Linked DNA regions of Homo sapiens: regions 1 and 2 are each linked to region 3. The links come from fine-mapping of genetic effects on gene expression. A gene starts in region 3. Each other region holds a variant in brackets. All regions are shown on one strand. Distances are from middle to middle.

Evidence for each region. PIP is the estimated chance that this variant, and not a neighbour inherited with it, causes the effect. A credible set is the group of variants that fine-mapping cannot tell apart.
Region 1: its variant is the best candidate, but not a certain one, in a credible set for the expression of NPR2 in spleen (GTEx, PIP 0.58).
Region 2: its variant is the best candidate, but not a certain one, in a credible set for the expression of NPR2 in lymphoblastoid cells (GTEx, PIP 0.77).

Annotation. Positions count from the first base shown.
Region 1 is chr9:35,691,666-35,694,392 of GRCh38, reverse strand. No RefSeq gene overlaps it. Among named protein-coding and RNA genes, the nearest start is that of TPM2, 3.1 kb to the right of the region's middle. The variant G/A (reference allele first, on the strand shown) is at 1,286.
Region 2 is chr9:36,525,618-36,528,374 of GRCh38, reverse strand. No RefSeq gene overlaps it. Among named protein-coding and RNA genes, the nearest start is that of MELK, 46 kb to the left of the region's middle. The variant C/T (reference allele first, on the strand shown) is at 1,440.
Region 3 is chr9:35,790,021-35,792,746 of GRCh38, reverse strand. NPR2 (natriuretic peptide receptor 2) reads right to left here and starts at 1,156. Exons shown (of 22, transcript NM_003995.4): 1 at 1-1,156. The coding sequence starts at 338. It also overlaps a transcript of RGP1 not described here.

The DNA of each region.
Region 1 (2,727 bases), 98 kb after region 3:
CGAATGCACGGTGTTACAAAATTATGCATGGGTAAAAGATCCAATCAGGTGCAGTTCAGAAAAACGGATTTTTTTTTTTTTTTTGAGACAGAGTCTTGCTCTGTCACCCAAGCTGGAGTGCAGTGGTGCAATCTCGGCTAACTGCAACCTTCGCCTCGCAGGTTCAAGTGATTCCCCTGCCTCAGCCTCCCGAGTGGCTGGGATTACAGGCGTGTGCCACCACCACACCTGACTAATTTTTGTAGTTTTAGTAGAGACGGGAGGGTTTCACCATGTTGGCCAGGCTGGTCTCGAACTCCTGACCTCAGGTGATCCACCCACCTTGGCGTCACAAAGTGCTGGGATTACAGGCGTGAGCCACCACACTTGGCCAAAACAACGGATTTTAGTTTAACAGTACAAAAAGGTCACTGATATGGTTTCACATTCTACATTGCAACTGCCCCTTAAGAAACTGCCAATTATCGGCCAGGCACAGTGGCTCAGGCCTGTAATTCCAGCACTTTGGGAGGCTGAGGCAGGAGGGTAGCTTGAGCCTAGGAGTTTGAGACCAACCTAGGCAACATAGTGGCACACCATCTCTATTTAAAAAAAAAAAAAAAAGGGCCGGGTATGATGGTGCACATGTGTAGTCCCAGCTACTGGAGGAGACTGAGGCGGAGAGAGCACTTGAGCCCAGAAGGTCAAGGCTGCAGTGAGCCAAGCCGTGATTGTGTCTCTGCACTACAGCCTGGGTGACAGAGCCAGACCTTGTCTCAAAAAAACATAAATATGCCAGGCCCGGCATGGTGGCTCACGCCTGTAATCCCAGCACTTTGGGAGGCCAAGGCAGGCAGATTATCTGAGTTCAGGAGTTCAAGACCAGCCTAGCTAACACAGTGAAACCCCGTCTCTACTAAAAATATAAAAAGTTATCTGGGCATGGTGGCGGGCGCCTATAGTTCCAGCTACTTGGGAGGCTGAGGCAGGAGAATGGCGTGAACCTGGGAGGCGGAGGTTGCAGTGAGCCGAGATTGTGCCACTGCACTCCAGCCTGGGCAACAGAGCGAGACTCCGTCTCAAAAAAACAAAACAAACAAACAAAAAATACAACAGTTAGCTGGGTGTGATGGCTTATGCCTGTAGTCCCAGCTACTCGGGAGGCTGAGGCGGGAGAATCACTTGAACCTGGGAGGCGGAGGTTGCAGTTAGCTGAGATCGCCCCACTGCACTCCAGCCTGGGTGACAGCGCGAGACTCTGTCTCAAAAAAATAAACAAATAATAATAATAATAAATAGGCCAGGC[G/A]TGGTGGTTCACGCCTGTAAGCCCAGCACTTTGGGAGGCCAAGGCAGGCGGATCACTTGAGGTCAGGAGTTCGAGACCAGCCTGGCCAACATGGTGAAACCCTGTCTCTACTGAAAATACAAAAATTAGTCAGGCATGGTGGTGCATGCCTGTAGTCCCAGCTACTCAGGAGGCTGAGACAGGAGAATTGCTTGAACCTGGGAAGCGGAGGTTGCAGTGAGCCAAGATCGCACCACCGCACTCCAGCCTGGGCAACAGAGCAAGACTGTTTCAAAATAAATAAATAAAATAATAAATAAATCTTTCCAACTGCATATCTGTTGTGAGACAGGATTTTCTTCATATGTCTCAGTAACCAACATATAGCAACAGATCAAATATGGAAGGAGATATTGATAATACAGCTGTCCCCTTGGAAGCCAGAGAGTAAAGAGATTCGTAAAAATGTAAAATAATTTCCATACTCTCATTAATTCGGGGAATGGGAATATAGTTATCTTTCATTTAGAACATTATGTTAACATGATTAATGTGTAATGAGTTTATTTTTGTTATTTTTAACGAATTGATACATATTTAAAATTTTTCTCAAGTTTCATTTTAATATGGCAACTATTGGTAGATATAACCCACTTCAACAAAAAAGCTGTTTGGGGGTCTTCAATACTTTTTAAGAGTGTAATGGGTTCTAAGACCAAAAGACCCACACCGTATTAGTATATTTGATAAGTACCCAGAAACTGGTACATAAAAAACTCATCTGGCAAATGTTCATGAAGTGCCAACTCTATGCCTGGTGCTGTGATAGGCCTTGGGGATTCAGAATTGAGAACAGTCGTTTCTGTTGAGGACTCACAGACCGGCGGAGGCGCCAAACCGGTATAAGAACAGTTATACCATGGGACTAGGATGAGGGTGAGAGCCCGCACCAAGAACACGCACCTATTAGGTGAGGCGGTGGGAAGAGAAGTGGCCAGGGAAGGCTTCCCAGAAAAGCTGACACTTACTGAGTCTTAAAGGCCACCAGGAATCAGCCAAGGGGATGGGCATTTTAGGGAGAGAGAACAGAATGCATAAACTGTGGAAGCTTTAAGAAAAGTATGGCTATTTCCAGCTCCTGCACGTAGCTCATTATGAATGCAGCATGAGGTACAAGTATGAATACTGGGGGTGAGGTTGGGCATGGAAGGAGATGAGGCCAGAGAGGCAGGCAACAGCCAAAACAACGGGCCTTCTATACCATATTAAGAAATGTGGATTTTTTTTTTCTCCTCAAAACAGGCAGGGTGCCCGCACGCCTGTAATCCCAGCTACTCAGGAGGCTGAGTCGGGAGGATCACTTAAGCCCATAAGTTCAAGACCAGCCTGGGCAATCTAGCAAGCTCCCGTCTCAAAAAAGGTGGGGGGACAGGGATTAGGGAGGGGTTTTGGAGAATTTTAGA
Region 2 (2,757 bases), 740 kb before region 3:
GTCTCAAAAAAAAAAAAAAAAAAAGGATGTCTCTTCCCCGGAAAAATTGGAGTACACGTAGCGTAAGAGGTCTAAGGAGACTTTGGATGGCAAACATGAGAAATGACCACAATTCTAGTGTCCTTCCCTTTAATTCTGCCAAAGTATTTTCTTTCTATGGAAAGCTCAGAATAAATCCTGCTGATCTCTTACTGGTAATTGCCAAGCTCTGTAGAAATTTAAGACATTTTCTTATCGGATCTCATTTTTTGTTTGACCCTGTTGATTACTCCCTCCCTTCTGCAGCTCCTCACTTATTCATTAAAACTCCATTTCCTGGCCTGGATGGGTGGCTCACGCCTATAATCCTAGCAATTTGGGAGGACGAGGTGGGTAGATTGCTTGAGCTCAGAAGTTCAAGACCAGCCTGGGCAACATGACAAAACCCTGTCTCAACCAAAAATACAAACATTAGCCAGGTGTGGTGGCTTGCACCTGTAGTCCCAGCTACTTGGGGGGTTGAGGTAGGAGGATCCCTGAGCCCAGGAGCCGGAGGTTGCAGTGAGCTGAGATCATGCCACTGCACTCCAGCCTGGGTACGAGTGAGACCCTGTCTCAAAAACAAAAACAGGCCGGGCTCGGTGGCTCACGCCTGTAATCCCAGCACTTTGGGAGGCCGAGGCGGGCAGATCACCTGAGGTTGGGAGTTCGAGACCAGCCTGGCCAACATGGAGAAACCCTGTCTCTGCTAAAAATACAAAATTAGCTGGGCATGGTGGCACATGCCTGTAATCCCAGCTACTCGGGAGGCTGAGGCAGGAGAATCACTTGAACCCGGGAGGCGGAGGTTGCGGTGAGCTGAGATTGCGCCATTGCACTCCAGCCTGGACAACAAGAGTGAAACTCTGTTTCAAAAAAAACAAAAACAAAAACAAAAAAACCTCCATTTCCCATGGCCTGGCATGGTGGCTCACACCTGTAATCCCAGCACCATCACTTTGGGAGGCTGAGGTAGGAGGATCGCTTGAGGCCAAGAGTTCAAGACCAGTGTGGGCAACATAGCAAGACACTGTCTGAAACAAAAACACCAAAAAACTCTGTTCCCCTTGGTTCTGTGAAACTGAGCTCCCTTGGTTGTACTTGCACCTCTCTGATCATGTTATTTGTGCATTTGAGAGGCCCTTTTTCCTTTCCCTGTCCCACACCTATGAAATGGACTGTGGCCAAATTCTCATTCAGTCTGCTCTCTTCTTTTTGTCATTTTTCTTGAACTGACTGCTCAGTTCAGGTATTTTCATTCTTAGTTCTACAATAAAGAAATTTAAGGTTGTTAATCTTCTTGTAAGTGGAGATTTGGCCCGTTCCCATAAGCTCTGTTACGTAGTGCTCTCCTTTTAGTAAATATCTAAATAGATTTTGCTTTCCTTGAATTTATTTTGTGATATGAATAATGCATAGTC[C/T]GCTTTCTTTTTGTTTGCACTTGCCTGTTGTCTTTTCCTAAAGGTTACGTTTAATGTTTCTGCTCATTCATATGTTGCATACACTTGACTTAAATACATACACTTGACTTCCATCTACTACGCATACTAACCCTCTTGACTTGCCATTAGTTTAAATGCCAGTGGCTGCACACCCAGGGATTTCTGAATTTGTGGCCCACTACTAAAAGCACTTTGAATGTCCTTGATATTCTTCATGTAAGAGATACTCCTGGCCAGGCACGGTGGCTCACGCCTGTAATCCTAGCACTTTGGGAGGCCAAGGAGGGTGGATCACCTGCGGTCAGGAGTTCAAGACCAGCCTGGCCAACATAGTGAAACCCCGTCTCTACTAAAAAAAATATAAAAAATTAGCTGGGCATGGTGGCGGTTGCCTGTAATCCCAGCTACTAGGGAGGCTGAGGCAGGAGAATCGCTTGAACCTAAGAGGCGGAGGTTGCAGTGAGCCGAGATCATGCCATTGCACTCCAGCCTGGGCAACAAGAGTGAAACTCCGTCTCAAAAAAAAAGAGATACTCCCTTAACAGGGGATGTATCTCCTGTAAGGGGATGAACTGTGCCAACTGAATCAGGTAGGGTTCTTTGGTTGCAAGCAACAGAAAGCGGTCATGTTTAACTTAAGAAAAAATGATATGAGCTAACTCACAGAAGAAAGGGAATGGCTGAAGAACCAAATCCCCTATCACTTACAGGGGAACATGCAAATTTATTAAACATAGTGTAAAATGTCTTTCATTCCTTTCCCTTAGCCAGACACTGTTCCAAGCGCTAGGAAACCAGTGGAGAACATGATAAAAACAACCTCTGTTTTGAAGACAAATATAGCTAGCACTGATCTGGATCCATGCCTATGGCCCAACAGGCTCTTTTCCTACCACATTTCAATACATACCCTGAATACAACAGCCAGGCACTTCCCTGGTGCACCAGACTCTTTAATGTTTCCATAACTTTGATCACGAAATTTTCTCTGTACTCATTATCCTTTCCTGCAAAGTCCTCTCTCACATCTTTGCTTGGTGACCTTATTCTACTCAGTCTTCAAAAATCAAACAAAAGGTCACCACTATTAGGAGATCAACAACCTCCGCCCCCCTTTTCCTTTTCAATTCAAAACTATTTTAGTTGTAGTCAAAGATGCTGGCTGATTAAGATTAAAATGTCATTTTCATTATTAATAAAGTCTAGGTTGGAGAACATGGCTTATGTTTGAGGCCAAATGACGTTATTAATATTTGGTTTTATGCTGGGCACGGTGGCTCATGCCTGTAGTTCTAGC
Region 3 (2,726 bases):
GAGGCAAAGCGGGCCACAGAGGCAGCAGGGTACACGCAACCGGGACCTAACAGCAGGTCGGGGTCATGGTACAGCTTGAGGTCCACAGCGCTCAGCGGTGCCAGGTACTCAGAGCAGGCGCCTTCCAGTTCGGAGCTGACAAACCGCAGGTCCACGGGCAGTGCCCGGCCCAGAGCCTCCACAGCTAGTGCCACAGCGGGTCCCACCCGTGGCCAGGCCCAGGCATAGCTCAGGTTGTGTTCTGGCAGCACCACCGCCAGCGTCAGGTTCCGCGCCCCGGGAGGACGCACCCCACCTGCCAGGGCTGCCACCAACAGCAGAAGTGATGGCAGCGCCATGGGGATAAAGCAGCAGCCCCACCGCCCCCAGAACTTGGGGCTGCTCTGGCCTACAGGGGAGACGCGAGCACCCCCCAGCCTGGAGCCTGGGGAAGAGGGCCAGGAAGAGGAGGAGTAGGCTAGGTAGGCTGGGATGCAGAAGGTGCTGGGGGCCGGGGAGAGGAGGGGGAGATGGGAGGAAGGCGGGGGGCGGGCAAGGAGTGGGCTACCAGCCTAGGGCAAGGACTGAGGACTGAGAACGGGGTGGCAGGGGGAGGGAGGGACCGAGGGGGCCTGCGGCCAGGATGGGGACAGTGCGAGGTGAAGAAGCCTGATAAATCTAAAGCTGAGAAGGAAAAGGGGATCTGGGACTGGGATGGGGTGGGGGTGGGGGGCGGGTGGTACAAAGAAACGGCCTGGGGGAACCTCACAGCTGAAAGGGCCGGGAGGGCAGGAGGGCGCTGCGCCACATAGGACCAAGGGGGTAAGGTGGGAGGGTGCCCGCGCCGCGGAAGGACTGGGATCATGGGCAGGCGGGGAGCGAAGCGAGGCCTGGGCCGGAGGGCAGGGGAAGGCAGGGGTAAATCTCCCTGTGAAGGATTCTCCCGGAGCTCCTGCTTGGACTAACGGGCCCGGGCGCTGGTCCCATCCGGAGCTACGGCGGCCCCGCCCGTGTCCCCGCTCCTCTCTGCTCCGCTTCTCCTGGGCCCTGGCGGCCGGCGCTGCCCGGCGCTTCCTCCCGCCCCCCGCCTGGGCCCCGCGCGCGCCGCTCGTCCGGGTCAGGTCGCCTCGGCCCGGCCCGTCTCCGCTCGCTGCGCCGGCGGCCGAGTGCGACTCCCCCGGGCAGGCCGCCCGCCCCCGCCCCTCCCCCGCTGCCTCTCCTCCTCCCTCCCGGCCCCACCCTCCGGCGCCGGCTGCCTTCCCCCACCCCCCACCCGGGCGCTCGGGACCGCCAGGTCCCAAACCCACCCCGGTGAGCACTTGGGGGCTCCGCACCAAGGCCTCGCCGGCCAGCAGGGTTCCCGGGCGCTCCCTCACTCTCAGGGCCTACCCTGGTCTCCCCCACGCCCCTGGTCCCCCTGCCGCCCCTCCTTCCATTTCCATCTCACACACGCCAGCGACCCCAGGGTTTGTCCTCTCCCCCTCGCTCAGCCCGTTCTTCTTGGGTCTCCCCTCTGAACTCCCTGAGTCCCTCAGTGGTTCCAGTCTCCAGGAAGCAGTCGAGGATCCCCAGACGTGTGGTATCCTCACCAGCCCCCTCACCTAGCAAACCATAGCGCCCTCCCGACGGCAGTGCGGCTTACTCCACCGCGGACCATGCCCGCTCCCTGGACGGGCCCCTCCAGCAGCCAGGGGCCCCTGCTGTACACTTCCCACCAGTCCTTAGAAAGTCCACGAGGCTCCTTCTTGCTTGGGACTCAACTCTCGGCCCCCCGCTGTCTCCATGCCCCCTGCCCTCCTCGTGTCCTCAGAGGCCCACCGCAGCCCGCCCGGCTTCCTCCGCACCATCTGCTCAGTCAGGGCCTCGATTTTCTTTTGTCTCCTGCACAGCGCAGGCTGGCGCCTGGGGAAAGCCTGTAACGGACCGGCGGGACACTCCCCGCAGTGGAAGCCCATCCACGCTCTCCTGGGGTTCCACCTTGCTCCCAGCTTCCCTTAGGAAGCTCTCCCTAGGGCCCTCATATCTGGAGTGCCAATCTGACCCCAAGAACAGCTTGTGAGGGATGATCTCATGGTGGCTGAGAGGGACTGCTATGGGACCTTGGGGATTTTTCTCCAACTGTCATAAAGGACATGCACATAAGCCCATTCTCTGCCCGCGCTAAGAGCCACGGTTTCTCTCCCCCCTTCAAGCTATTTCTCCAGAAATCACAAGCTAAGAGCGCTCCTGGAGCCCTGGAGTGGGGTGGGAGTGTATAGGGCGAGGACGGGCATGGTTTCCCTGAGATGAAGGCGACACCTAGTGGTTTGGTGGGGGAAATTAAGGACAATGCCACTTTATCCTTAGGCACGATATTTATTGAACACCGGCTGCCTAGCACAAGCTGTACCTGTGAATACAAAGAAAGCCGAATGATACAGCCCTTACCTTTGAGGAACATGCATTTGCAATCCCTGGGGCACAGAGGCCAAGAGCAGGCCGTCCCTAACAATGTTCTTGCCTCAAGCCCAGTAGAGATGGAAGCCTCAGGACAGCTCCTTCTTTAACGCAGAGGGGTTGGTAACTCTAGTTCCAGGCTCCCAATACTGCAGTGAAAAGGAATTTTGTCCTATCTGGCCAAGGCAAAAAAAAAAAAAAGGAACAGTCAAAAGAATGACGAGACAACATGAGAAATACTTTAGACCAAGTCAACCAAATAGAATAGTTGATTTTTAAGCAACTACACATTGTTTTATGAGACAAGCAAA